Linked DNA regions of Homo sapiens. The protein of the gene in region 1 interacts with the protein of each later gene in a pairwise test. Each region holds a gene or a part of one and is shown in the gene's direction. Other genes may lie near its edges.

Region 1 (3,194 bases):
CACTTGTTAAGATGGAGTTATAACTGTCATACATTTGGAATATTATGATCCCAAGTAGTCTTTTTATAATTTGGATTGTATCGTATGTTAGATTTTTGATAAAATTTGGCCAATTTTTACAGAAGAAATTCTCTGATCATTTAGTTCTGTCTATTTAGAAATATGTAAAACTGGATTTTTTTTTAAGTAATATGTGACCAAAGTTAATTTTGTCCCAAAGGTCTAAATAAAGAGCAGTTTCCCATATTTGGCTGTGATACCTTTATCCTCATTATCTACAAATGAGGAACAGGCTTACTGATAAGAAGCTGAAACAAGAAATTCTCTTCATTTTATCCCAGTGCTATTTTATTGATTAATTACTAAAAAGTATTACTTTCTAATTTTATTGCTGTTTCTGTTGGTGTGAGATTAGAATCATCTGACTGCTATTAGGTGGTTGATTTGTATAGCTGATTAACACAAATTGCATTATGAGCTAGTAAATGGATCTTTGGATAATGGGGTCCAAATTCTTAATGTTTATAAGTAACAAGTTCAAAGGCTTTAGTCACACCTGTTTGTGAGCTGAGCTATTATACATCTACATACTTAAAGGATGTATTTGGAGTGTTGGATTTTTTTTTTTTTTTTTTTTTTTTGAGACGGAGTCTCATTCTGTCGCCCAGGCTGGAGTGCAGTGGCGCGATCTCAGCTAACTGCAACCTCTGCCTCCCAGGTTCAAGCGATTCTCCTGCCTCAGCCTCCCAAGTAGTTGGGACTACAGTCATGTGCCACTACTCCTGGCTAATTTTTTGTATTTTTAGTAGAGTTGGGGTTTCACGGTGTTAGCCAGGATCGTCTCGATCTCCTGACCTCGTGATCCACCCACCTTGGCCTCCCAAAGTGCTGGGATTACAGGCGTGAGCCACCACGCCCAGCCTTGGAGTGTTGGAATTTTTAAAAATTATTCTTATGTCACTTTGAAATGTAGAACGTGTTGCCATGTGCGGTGGCTCACACCTATAATCCCAGCACTTTGGGAGGCCGAGGTGGCTGGATCACCTGAAGTCAGGAGTTTGAGACCAGCCTGACCAACATGGAGAAACCCCATCTCTACTAAAAATACAAAATTAGCTGGGCGTGGTGGTGCATGCCTGTAATCCCAGCTACTCAGGAGGCTGAGGCAGGAGAATCACTTGAACCCAGGAAGCGGAGGTTGCAGTGAGCCAAGATCACCCCATTGCACTCCAGCCTGGGCAACAAGAGCAAAACTCCATCTCAAAAAAAAAAAAAAAAAAAATTTAGAATGTGTTAGAGAAATTTAACAAGTAGAACAGGTGATTTCTGGTTGATAGACTCTATCTTGCAGTATATTTATTTCATGTATCAGACCCCAAAGTTGTTGCCTTGTTATTTTTTTAATTTCTCACATTTTTGAAAAATAGATGCTATCCTCTATAGTAAAATATTGAATCACTTTATAGTAGACAATACATATGACATTTAACAAATACTTGGTTTGAAAAAGTTTGGCTTTATTCAACAATTTTAGTTTGCCCACTGATTTTCAAATGTCTGTGGGATTGCTTATAACTAAGTAGAAAGTGAAGACTGATTTTTACTTAAGAATGGGATAGAGATGAGTTTTATGGTTTTTAAAAGTATTTTCAGTTCATTATTTAAATGTTGGGTTGTTGATATGGTCTTGTTTCTGATAAGGAAATAGGAGCAACTTGTTTTAAAATAACTACACTAAAAGACTTTCTTCATCTCCGTATAGAGAAATCCAGATTTCAATTAATTCATTTATTGGGTGCTAACAAAATTCAGGGTTAGAGTAAATTTAGGTCTGTTGGTCCATGTGGCCTGGTTTCCTAGCACCCATTAAACATAATGCTATCTTTTAAGCCTGAACATGTGGGTTTTTTAAATCAAATTGGAAAAAAATTAGACAACTGATGTCATGCTGTCTTGGTATCCATACTAAAAAAGTATCAGGAAAATAGATTATTTTTGTGCTGTGAAACACTATTCAGTGGAAAGTTTAGTGGCAACTTTTCCATATCATTCATGACTTAATACCTGAAATGCACTTTTAAATGTTTGCCTTATATCCAAGTGTTTACTTGTATCCATGACCTAACCGTCTATTGAAAAGAATGTTTGCAGATGCAGATTGCAATGTTGTTTGTATTCATAGGCAAAAGTCCTCTTCTCTAGTATAATTTTTTAAATCTGAGAGAATTGAAGGTACAGAAAAAAATTCTGGAGTGCCTGAACCACAGTTTGAGAGCACAAAGGTCACATTCTTTCAGTAAATTTGGGGGAAATAAATTTCAGCTACCTGGTTAGCTTCAGTGACTACTTACACACAGGGCTTTGGTTCCATTACTTGTTTCCACCACAGCCACATCCTAAATACTTGGAATATCCGAAAACAACTTCTAAAATCACTCAATAAAAGTATTCACTTCTAACCAACTCCTCCTCCTTTATACCTGCTCTGTGTTAGGGCGTAGTCTGTTTCCACCTCTGTAAGTCCTATCTAGGCTTCCTGATCTATCAATTCAGTATCATGATTGTTAACCCAAACGACTTCCTGGAAAATTCCCAGCCCTAGATGTATCCAAGCCCTCCTACCCTCACCAGTTATTTCTGGAGAAAGATCACCAAATGTATAAATCCGTATTAGTAAAAATTGGTTTTAACTGACCTCAGCACTGCCCATTACCCTTATTTTCTCTAGTCGGTTCTCCATTCTTACTATGTAAAACTTATACTCTGAAACTTGTTACCCTCTTTTTTTCCTTCACTCTTAACATGTCCTTGCCTTCTATCTTACATAAAAATAGAGACCTTCAGGCACAAATTCCCTGAACTTCACTTACTAAATCCACAGCCATGGACAAGATTCTGTGCTCTAGGTTGTGACATCCCAACTCTACCACAGGGCTAAACTCGGTGACCTTGAGCATAAGTTGATCTCTCTGGGTCTCCTTTCTGGGTAAGTAAAATGAGGATAGTAACAGTAACCCCCTTTGCATAGTTAGTTATTGTGAGACTTAGGTAAAATGAACAAAAAGCTTAGTGCATAGATAAGTGATCAGTAAGTGCTGGCTCCTGGTTCCCACCACCCCCTCTGCCGCCCCGAGATGGGGTCCTGCTCTGTCACCCAAGCTGGAGTTCAGCAGCATGATCATGGTCATGGCTCA
Region 2 (4,088 bases), about 85 Mb from region 1:
GCCTAAATATTCCAAATAGCAACTCTAATATTCTCATATTCATCTGTACTTTGCACTGCCCTACTTTACTCAGATCACCCATGGGGAGACAAACGTGTGATGACAGCAGTGGGAATAGAATCAAGGCCATTGCCTGTGGCTAGGCCAATTAAAAACTTGCCAAGATAGCCAAGTGTCCAGTTGTATACATTTAGCTTTTCATGTCAGAATTGTATATTTTATCCTGTTGGTATGCTTCTGAAGGAGAGTTCATGTGTTTTGTGTCTTAAATCGAAACTGGATTTGTTGTGGCACTTTAAAATCTGTCGCCAGTGTACATTCCAATTTGAGTCATTGCAACCAAGTTTGCAAAGATTGTTTTAAACAGTTTCAACTGGAAAAGTTTATTATTTGAAATCTTAAAATGAACAAATTAATTCACAAAGGCAGAGACATTTGAATGGTGGGTGAATAATCTTTATTTGGTCTGTACTTTCTGCTTCCAATCTGGGAATTTTTCCAAGAAAACACTGACTGAAATACAGTCAGAATTTATATATGCATTTACATTAGGCTCCAACAATAAGATTCAGCCTTTTTCAAAACTGTCACTTGCATAGCCAATAAACTAGTGTCTCAAAAATCCATTTAATTTTCCATACTTCCCAAAACCATTTCAATGCGATGATCTCTTTTGGCATATCTTCCCAAGAGATTGCTAGTTTTGCTGTGATGGTCCATTTCCAGAATCTGGCAGCAATGCGAGAACCATTAGGAGGCTTTGAAATGTAGACCTTCTAAGTAGGGCAAAGGCAAGGAAGACGACTGCAGAGGGAATGCCAGAAGCATTACCGAGTGGATGAGAGAATGCAGGGAAGGAAAATTTCCACTTCACAAAGACATTTTAAAGAGACGGTGTTTGGGGATGATGATGCCACAGAAAGACTCACAACTCAAAATCTCACAACAGGATTCAGTAGTTTAACAAATTCAACTCCAAATTGTCCCCCAGACAATCACTGCAGACTCCTCCCGGTGGCAATTGCCTGTATCTGAGGATTTTACATCTGTCTTTCGTCACTGTCGGTACTGCCACAAAAACACTCTCATAAAAAGGGAGGCAGAACTGCATCAGGCTCTAAAACAACACTCAGCTCACCCCTCGCGCAACAACCCGGGTCCCTAGGGATGCTTGGGTTGCCACCCGCCGCTCGAAGCTGGAGGGGCCGCCGGAGCCTGCGATTGGCTGCTTCGGGCACATCGTCCCGCCCCGACCTGTAGCTCCTCCCAGGTTTCCGTTGTCAAGGACGCGCCGTCGGTTGTTGTCAAGATGGCGGCTGCAGGGTTGCTGCCGCCCCATCTGCTATTGCCCGGCGAGGTCGCCGCTGCCTCAGCTGCCATCGCCGCTACAGGCACCAGTGCCGCTGCGCGGGAGCTAGGGCTGTCGAGGCCAACCCTTCCGCGCCCGTGACGCGGGGCCTGAGAGACGGAGTGTAGGGAGGGGCCGAGCAGGAGGAGGAGGAAGCCGGAGCTGCCATGAGGGAGGTTCTGGGGGCGAGCAGACAGGCGGCGCTGAAGTGAAGGATGCTGGCGGGGAGGCCCGGAACCCGGAGCGCGGTCGGGGAACTGGGCACTGAATCATCGGACAACCTCGACAGAGCCCCCCTCGGCCCTCGGGAGAGCGGCGGGCATCACCGACCTGGCTCTTACCTGTATCCTTCCCAGCCTGTGGCTGCCAGGGTAGCGATGTTGAAAACGGGGCCCATCTTTTTCCAATTAGATTCCCATTACCTTTGACGCAGGGTGATCAAAACTAGCAAGTCATCTTAGTGCAGATATTTCCTTTAGCAACTGTCGTGTCTCACCTTAGACCTGAAATTATACCATTTTATCTAATTCTGTGGCTGCTTCCCCCCATCACCCTGTTATCCTACTCCCATTCTTCAACTTTGTAAAATTTTTGTGAATTTTAAAACACATCAACTGTGTATTCTGTGGGGATATTTTTATGCCATTATGTTCTTTACTTACATATTAACTACTTCCTGATTTATCGTACTACTTGGAGAGAGAAATTACACAAATAAGTAAAATGTTTTGCTATCCTAAAGAGTCCGTTTTAACAGTTATCCTAACACAGCCCTAAATGCATTTACCAGAGCTGCTAAAGGCTACACAGTTTGGTAAGTTGTTTTGTTTTCCATCTCTGCCCAGTCTGTTGTCAGAGCGACAGAAAAGAGGAAATGAGAAACAGGGGACCTGGACGCTTTACAATCTGGATTAACTCTGACTTTTCTCGAAGAGTTGGTTAAGCCTACCTTTGATGTTGCTGTTGGTTGCATTGTAGAAAATGGAAAGAGGAGAAGTATTTTGTTATCAAAATCTGTAAATCAGGTTTATTCCTTTAGAGACTGTTGTGATGATTAGGATTTAACCTTTGTATTCCCAAAGGACTTGGTTGGCAATGATGGTGTTGTGTAATCATCTTCAGTCTTGTCAGAGATGAGTGTCTTCTCTTTCCAAGTTAACTCTGTTTTCTTATCCCCTTTGTCTCCAATTTCTAGGATGTTCTTTGTACTCTGTTACAATTTTAGCAGCAAGTCAACAATTTGTATTGAGTGCCTGCTCTTTGGCTGACTCTGTTCTAGGTTCTAGGGATACAAATCTAGTGAGGAAGACAAATGTGTATAGAGCTTCACTAAAAGTAAAATATCTCTTCTCCGATCATGCTTTCTGCAATCTTCCATCCCTTCAGTCTTTTCTTTCTTTGGGCAGGTTCTCAAAATGGTAGCTTGCAATAGCTGCTTCTAGTTCCTCTCATCTATTCATTATTAACCCCATTCAGTTTGGCTTTTGCCCTTGCTGCTCCCCAAAATTGCCCTCTTAAAGGTTACTCTGAAATGAACACAATCATTTTCTGTATGGATTTAATTCTGGCCTCTTGACATTATATTTTCTTGGACACAACTGCTATTACACGACCCTGATTTATCTCTAAATCAGAAAATAGGGAAGTATTGTAAATGGCTCATTGAGAGTGTATTTTCTGTTATTTTCATTAATAAAATGGTTGTAGGCCTCATTTTTTAAATTTTATGTGGTATAAATTTTTGATACAAATGCCAAAGAAAATATTCATAAATAGAATCCAGCAATACTTTGAATGAACACAACCAAATAGACTCTATTCCAGAATTAGAATGACATTTCCTATAAAGAAATACAACACTAAAAAAGATCCTTAAAGGCTAAATATATAGTTAAAATTAGGCAAGTTATAAATGAACATTTTAATAGATGACCAATAGACTTTGATAAAATCCAACAATGTGTGTGTGTGTGTGTGTGTGTGTGTGTGTGTGTGTGTGTGTGTGTGCTGGTTTATATATATTTTTGCTAGTTTGCATATGTGTGTATATATATGTTTAGATAATATATATTTAAATTGGAACAGAGGAATTATTTTTGAACATAATAAAGATTATAACACTAAATCAAGAACATTATGTTTGCTAGCTGGAAAAACACTAAAGTACCTTTTATATAAGTTTAATTGGAATGTTCTTTGTGTCTATAATGTTTCCCATTGGATACCTAGCACAGAGTAGGTGCTCAAATTTACATGACTAAATGAAAAAAAGGAAAGAAAGCAAATGAAAGGACCACAGCCTTAAAATAAGCAAGTATGTGGTAACATTTACATTTCAATTTCAAATATGAACATGATACTCAGAGGCCATCTGGCTTTCTGTTGAAGACATTTTCTCACTGGAGTCAGAATTTTCTGACTCTAAAGGTTATAAAACAACAAAACCTTATGAAGTTTATTTAATTAAAATTAGCTAAAGTTCTGTCATTTCAATCTCTTTTTCTCTTTTGAGAGTTCAAATAGAAATGGAATTTAAAAAAAAAAAAAAAAGGAAGGTCTCTCATGTCCCCTTATACCTGCCTTTTTTTCCTCATAAATATCTCTACCCTTCAACCCTCCCATTTTATCCTAGCACCCACCTTGCCTCTCCTTTCCTCTCCAGTTTATACCCTATTCTTAACTATTTGAACTTTCTCTCACCAACATCTTTGGCTATTTGTACCCCAATCATTCTGCCTCA
Region 3 (3,500 bases), on another chromosome or scaffold:
TACTTCAGCTTAAAAGCTATTTATCAAAATATTCATCTTACTACTTACGGAGAATAGCTAAATTTTTCTTTACTTAGGAATTTTTTTTCTCCAACTAGGAGTAATTATGAATTTTCTTTTTTTAAGCCATGCCAGTTCTCTGTTAGTAGATAGAAGATGTCTAACATTGAAACAACTCATTTACTTAACCGTACCTGCACAGCTAAAGACTAAGGGATAATATTTCCTTGCTGAACATACCTGTATTTCAGATGGTGGTAGGCTTCAACCAAACAGGCAGTGAAATCACTTTGGGTGTTTAAAACTTGTGTACTTCATTTGTTTCTCAAAAGTTATCATATGTCAGTGATACTTTCTATATCAAAGTGGAAAAAGTAACACTTCTTGATAAAGGAGGTTTTGCTTGCATTGCTCTCTTTATCACTGTCATTAACACCTGAAGAATTATTTTTATTGATAACTTTTTTAAAAAGCTATGCCATTAGCCTTAAAACCATTATGTAGTCTTATCCTATTGATGTTATCTAGTATTTTATTTTATAAATCATTTACTAAAGAATTACTGTTAATTTGTTTTAGAAGTCCTATTAGGAAAGGTTTTGTTACATGAAACTCTCAATATGACAGAAGTGTTCAGTTGTTTTAACTCTGAAATAAGTTTGTGCATTGAATTCTGAAGCAAAAATCCTGCTCAGAAATCACCTTAGCTTGTTTACGCCCAAAAGAAACTTCGAAACTGAGTCTTTGGTTCAAAAAACTGGAGTTGGCCCCATGAAATTATGTATACTTAGCATTTTTAACTTCTGTCCTGTTGGGGAGACCCCTGAGGATAAAAATAGTCCTTATGATTTGAATAGCAGGCAGGTTGCCAATTGAAGAGACTTTGGTAGAAGTGAGCCATAAGGAGGGAGCCAGAGTTGTTAGAGGGAAGGAGCAAGAAACCAGGAGAAGCTTTTGGGAATGTGATGATGTTAGGTTTCCAGATAAATATTATATAACGTATTAATATAAATATTGTATCACAAAAATAAGCTCATTATCATGAATCTGTTGATTTATATTTTGTGATTTCTAAGTCACGTATTGGTATTTGCCCCTGAAAATGGTAAGGTATCCTAAATTAAGTTATTCTAATGCATAATCACAAATGAGACTATGTGAAATGTGCAGAAGTATAGGAGCTAATGCAAGCTCTGTGATGGCAGGGACCATTTTCTTTGTTCACTCTTTAAGTCTTAGCACTTAGCATAAGCCTGACAATAAAAGATGTCGAATAAGTATTTGCTAATAGAATTAAAGTATCTACAATCTAAGGTATTTATTTTATAACTATCTCTTCAGCAGTGTTGTCCAATAGAAATACAATGTGAGCCACAAATATAATTTAAAATTTTCTAGTGCCACATTAAAGAAGTAAAAGGAAACAGGCAAAATTAGTTTTCATAATGCATTTAAGCCAATAGATCTGAAAGATTATCATGAGTGACTTTACGTACTTTTATTCATATTGGACAGCGTAGCTCTAGGGGCGTTTTGTATGACATGTTTCTTTCTGCAGAACTTGTCTTTTTGTAGTCTTTTTCTAACTGATTGATGTGTCTTTTGAGGCCAAATACAGAATTGCATACACCTTCGAATTGGAGTTATTGAGTTGGATTGAAAGTCAGGCTACCTGTCTTCTCTCAGTTTTACATCTCCGCACAAAATGACTTTGCGCGTTACTGTCTTTCCCAATGTATAATCCTGTAATCCCAGCAGTATGGGGAGCTGAGGCAGGCAGATCATTTGAGGTCGGGCAAGACTAGCCTGACCAACATGGTGAAACCCTGCCTCTACTAAAAAATACAAAAATTTGCTGGGCTTGGTGGCAGGCACCTGTCATGCCAGCTACTAGGGAGGCTGAGGCAGGAGAATTGCTTGAACTTGGGAGGTAGAGGTTGCAGTGAGCTGAGATTGTGCCACTGTACTCCAGCCTGAGCAACAGAGCAAGACACCATCTCTAAAATAAAATAAGGAAGGATATTCATCATCTTTTTCATTGGATTAGTATAAGTTAATTATGCCTTTGAAACACTCTGGGCTACTCAGACAAGACTGTTATAAAAGAGATCCTCTAATTATTAGTAACTAGTCAGAGCAAGGCTCAGTGTAAAAAACAGGATAGAAGTTCCCATGAGACTGGTGCATATAGAATGTACTGTTACCTCCCACATTGGAATCAGTAACAATAAATCAATACAAGATGCTCTTAAATAGAATCAGGAGAGGCGACTAGGTTGGTTTGAGCACCAGATTTTAAACCTCTCATCTATTTAATATTGCCTGAACAAATCTGTTTTTCAGTTTTTGTATGGAATAAATGGGACTTTTTATATAGGCATCCTTAAATAAAATCATGAAATAAGGTCATTTGGAAAGTGGAGGTGGGAACTGGTAAGTAATGTGAGTGCGTAAGTGGGGGTGGGAACTGGTAAGTAGTGTGAGTGCGTAAGTGGGGAAAATAAAGTAACCATTTAGAAAAGCCTGTTATCTTAGGGTATATGATGTATATAGTACAATGACTGTAATTCTTTTATCCAAAGCAAGGGTGGCAGTGGTTACCTGGTAGGCAGTTGTGACTTCTGGTTGTATACATAGCCATATCAAATAGATTTCTCCTTATAGCCATACCCTTTAATATAAAACCAACTTTTGTCAGGCATGGTGACTCATGCTTGTAATTCCAGCACTTTGGGAGGCCAAGGTGGGCAAATCACCTGAGGTTAGGAGTTCGAGACCAGCCTGGCCAACATGGTGAAACCCTGTCTCTACTAAAAATACAAAAAAAAATTTACCTAGGTATGGTGGTGGGCACCTGCAGTTCCAGCTACTTGGGAGGCTGAGGCAGGAGAATTGCTCCAACCTGAGAGGTGGAGGTTATAGTGAGCCGAGATTGCGACATTGCACTCCAGGCAGGGTGACAAGCAAATCTGTGTCTCAAAAATAAAAATAAATAAATAAATAAAAACTTTTTTTTGGAGACAGAGTTTCACTCTGTCACCCAGGCTGGAGTGCAGTGACGCAATCTTGGCTTACTGCACCCTCCGCCTCCCAGGCTGAAACGATTCTCATTCCTCAGCCTGCCAGTAGCTGGGATTACAGGCACCTGCCACCACACCCAGCTAATCATTTTTTTTTTTTTTTTTTTTTTTTACAAGCGGCGAGGTTTTGCCATGTTGGCCAGGCTGATTTCGAACTCCTGGACTCAAGTGATCCGCCCACGTCAGCCTTCCAAAGTGCTGGGATTACAGGCGTGAGCCACTGCACCTGGCCCATTTTTAAAATTATGCACAAACGTTAAATATCCTTTAGATTTTTGCATAATTTAGCATACCTTACTGATGTCCTTAGCAAAAATTTCCAGAACCATATTTTAGTGTGTTGCATGGTAACCCCACAAAAGATATGTTCATGTCCTAATCCCCAGAATCTGCAAATGTTATTTGGAAAAAGGGGTTTTG
Region 4 (3,500 bases), on another chromosome or scaffold:
TGTCATTTTTTTCTGCTAATTGTATTATTATAATAGTTTTCTATTGCTCTGTAACAAATTACCACAAGATTAGTGGCTTAAAACAGCATCAAATTTATCTTACAGTTCTGTGGGTCAAGCCAAGCTAGGCAGAACACACCTGTAGTCCCCACTACTTGGGAAGCTGAGGAGGGAGCATCACTTGAGCCAGGGGTTCAAGTCCAGCCTGAGAAGCATAGCAAGACTCTGTCTCTAAAAATATTTTTAATTAAAAAATTTTTTAATTCAAACAATTTAGGAAAAGTAAATATAACATTTTGAAGTATATCCTTCCATATTTTTTATATATATATATCCTTCCATATTTTATATATATTTTTATATATATTATATATATTTTTATATATATAATATATATTATATGTTATATATATTTTTATATATATTATATATATTATATATGTTATATATATATTATATATATTATATACATATATATAATATATATGTTTTATATATATATATACACACACACACATACATGTGGGAAAGACAGAGTTAGTTTTCTTAAAAATGAGATTACAAGGTCAGGAGATCGAGACCATCCCGACTAACAAGGTGAAACCCCATCTCTACTAAAAATACAAAAAATTAGCTGGGCGGAGTGGCGGGTGCCTGTAGTCCCAGTTACTCGGGAGGCTGAGGCAGGAGAATGGCGTGAACCCGGGAGGCGGAGCTTCCAGTGAGCCGAGATAGCACCACTGCAGTCCGGCCTGGGCAAAAGAGCAAGACTCCGACTCAAAAAAAAAAATGAGGTTACAGATGCTCCTAAATTTACCGTGGGTTTACATCCCAATGAACACATCACAAATTGAAAATATCATAAGGTAAAAATGCATTTAATACACCTAACCTGTAGAACATCGTATCCTAGCCTAGCCTACCTTAAGCGTGTTCAGACCACTTACATTAGCCTACAGTTGGGCAAAATCATCTAACACAAATTGTACTTTATGATAAAGTTTTAATATCCCATGTAATGTATTGACTACTGTACTGAAAGTGAGAAAGAATGGCTGTATGGATACTCAAAGTACAGTTTCTACTGAATCCATATCACTTTCTCACCACTGTAAATTTGAAAAATCACAAGTTATAGTAAGTCAGAGATTGTATGCTGCAAATAGTATTTTGTAGTTTCCTTTTTTATTTAATGAAAGTAAAGTATACTTCATATATACATATTTATATATATGAAACTATGCTTTATATCTACATTATATAGACATAATTAGGAAGACTTCTTCTATGTCCATAGATACTCAAACATATTATCATTTTAATAGCTGTCATTATAGAAATAATTATAATTTGTTCACTGAGACTTACTGCTAAGCATTTAGGTTACTTATAATTTTTCATTAATATTGACAATACATATCTTTTTGGGGTACTTTTGATTGTTTCCTTAGGAAAATTTCTGAACCTGTAAGGATGAATATTATGCACATTTTAAGGCTTTTGTATTTATTGCAACTTACTGGAAATTATTACGAAAAATATTATACACCCTAATTTATAGCAGTAACCAGTATCAGAGTCCTCATGTGTTTTGGTTGTTTTCCCCAGACAAACAGTAGAACGTGTCACGCTGCAGAACCAACTCCAACAATTTCTAGAAGCCCAGAAATCAGAGGGCAAGTCACTCCCTTCTTCACCCAGGTAATACCAGCACATTGTTGTTTAGCATTCTTAAGTATCCTAAATTGTTAAGCCTTCTTCTGAACTTCCTTTGATATATTTTAAGAGGATGACAACAGAAAACATTTTCTTCTTATAAAGAGGAATAAAAATGAGAAATCACAGTGAAAAAGGCACTGGACCTAGAGTCTGAAGACCTGCTGTATTCTCTGATTCTGCTATTTCTTCATTCCACGACTATAAACAAGTCATTTACTCTTTTGTAAGAATTGAATCTTTCAATTCTTCATCTGTGAAGTGGGAATAGGAGATATATATATATAGCTTGATAAGTTTGTTGAAAATGGAATTAACTGAGAAAATTTATGCAAAATTGATGTATAAACAGTAAAACAGACAAATTTAGTAGTCATGGTAGTTATAGCCGAAGGCATAAGGCACCTTATAGCTGATACTATGGAGTATTTGCACATTGTTTCGAAAAGAAATTATGTACTTATCTGTATTCTGTTCTTATTTACTTATACATTATTAGTGTCAGTAAAGACCATGTAGTGACTTGAGTCATTTCAACCCAGTAGGAAATCATCTCATATGTCCTTCATCTTCTTTTTAGTTCACCATCCTCACCTGCCTCCAGAAAGTCCCAGTGGAAATCTCCAGATGCAGATGATGATTCTGTAGCCAAAAGCAAGCCAGGAGTCCAAGAGGGGATTCAGGTTCTTGGAAGCCTGTCAGCCTCCAGCCGGGCTAGACCCAAAGCAAAAGATGAAGATTCTGATAAAATCTTACGCCAGTTATTGGGAAAGGAAATCTCAGAAAATGTCTGCACCCAGGAAAAACTGTCCTTGGAATTCCAGGATGCTCAGGCTTCCTCTAGAAATTCTAAAAAGATCCCACTGGAGAAGAGGGAACTGAAGTTAGCCAGGCTGAGACAGCTGATGCAGAGGTCACTGAGTGAGTCTGACACAGACTCCAACAACTCTGAGGACCCCAAGACTACCCCAGTGAGGAAGGCTGACCGACCAAGGCCGCAGCCCATTGTAGAAAGCGTAGAGAGTATGGACAGCGCAGAAAGCCTGCACCTGATGATTAAGAAACACACCTTGGCATCAGGGGGACGCAGGTTTCCTTTCAGCATCAAGGCCTCCAAATCCCTGGATGGCCACAGCCCATCTCCCACCTCAGAGAGCAGCGAACCAGACTTAGAATCCCAGTATCCAGGCTCAGGGAGTATTCCTCCAAACCAGCCCTCTGGTGACCCTCAGCAGCCCAGCCCTGACAGTACTGCTGCCCAGAAAGTTGCCACAAGTCCCAAGAGTGCCCTCAAGTCTCCATCTTCCAAGCGTAGGACATCTCAGAACTTAAAACTGAGAGTTACCTTTGAGGAGCCTGTGGTGCAGATGGAGCAGCCTAGCCTTGAACTGAATGGAGAAAAAGACAAAGATAAGGGCAGGACTCTCCAGCGGACCTCCACAAGTAACGAATCGGGGGATCAACTGAAAAGGCCTTTTGGAGCCTTTCGATCTATCATGGAGACACTAAGTGGCAACCAAAACAATAATAATAACTACCAGGCAGCCAACCAGCTGAAAACCTCTACATTGCCCTTGACCTCACTTGGGAGGAAGACAGATGCCAAGGGAAACCCTGCCAGCTCCGCTAGCAAAGGAAAGAATAAGGCAGTAAGTGCTATTTGGAGAATATTCTTTTTTTTCCTTCAAATGGATTATGTTGTTCCTAATATCACAGATTGTGGGCCCACACTACCTTGAGGGAATCCCCAGGAAAAAAAAAAATCCAAAGGGATGCATGGAAAG

What was found.
Region 2: the proteins of C11orf58 (region 1) and CEP126 interact in a two-hybrid assay, tested with the Homo sapiens proteins (one large-scale study listed by BioGRID and IntAct).
Region 3: the proteins of C11orf58 (region 1) and RNF19A interact in a two-hybrid assay, tested with the Homo sapiens proteins (one large-scale study listed by BioGRID and IntAct).
Region 4: the proteins of C11orf58 (region 1) and SNCAIP interact in a two-hybrid assay, tested with the Homo sapiens proteins (one large-scale study listed by BioGRID and IntAct).

Annotation. Positions count from the first base shown.
Region 1 is NC_000011.10:16,755,647-16,758,840, forward strand, and holds the end of C11orf58 (small acidic protein), read left to right. Parts: 3' UTR 1-2,694; downstream 2,695-3,194.
Region 2 is NC_000011.10:101,913,722-101,917,809, forward strand, and holds the start of CEP126 (centrosomal protein of 126 kDa), read left to right. Parts: upstream 1-1,288; 5' UTR 1,289-1,563; coding exon 1,564-1,691; intron 1,692-2,297; exon of another isoform or gene 2,298-2,801; intron 2,802-4,088. UniProt on the Homo sapiens protein: Participates in cytokinesis. Necessary for microtubules and mitotic spindle organization. Involved in primary cilium formation.
Region 3 is NC_000008.11:100,303,454-100,306,953, reverse strand, and holds part of RNF19A (E3 ubiquitin-protein ligase RNF19A), read left to right. Parts: intron 1-3,500. UniProt on the Homo sapiens protein: E3 ubiquitin-protein ligase which accepts ubiquitin from E2 ubiquitin-conjugating enzymes UBE2L3 and UBE2L6 in the form of a thioester and then directly transfers the ubiquitin to targeted substrates, such as SNCAIP or CASR.
Region 4 is NC_000005.10:122,448,237-122,451,736, forward strand, and holds part of SNCAIP (synphilin-1), read left to right. Parts: intron 1-1,608; coding exon 1,609-1,701; intron 1,702-2,296; coding exon 2,297-3,365; intron 3,366-3,500. UniProt on the Homo sapiens protein: Isoform 2 inhibits the ubiquitin ligase activity of SIAH1 and inhibits proteasomal degradation of target proteins. Isoform 2 inhibits autoubiquitination and proteasomal degradation of SIAH1, and thereby increases cellular levels of SIAH.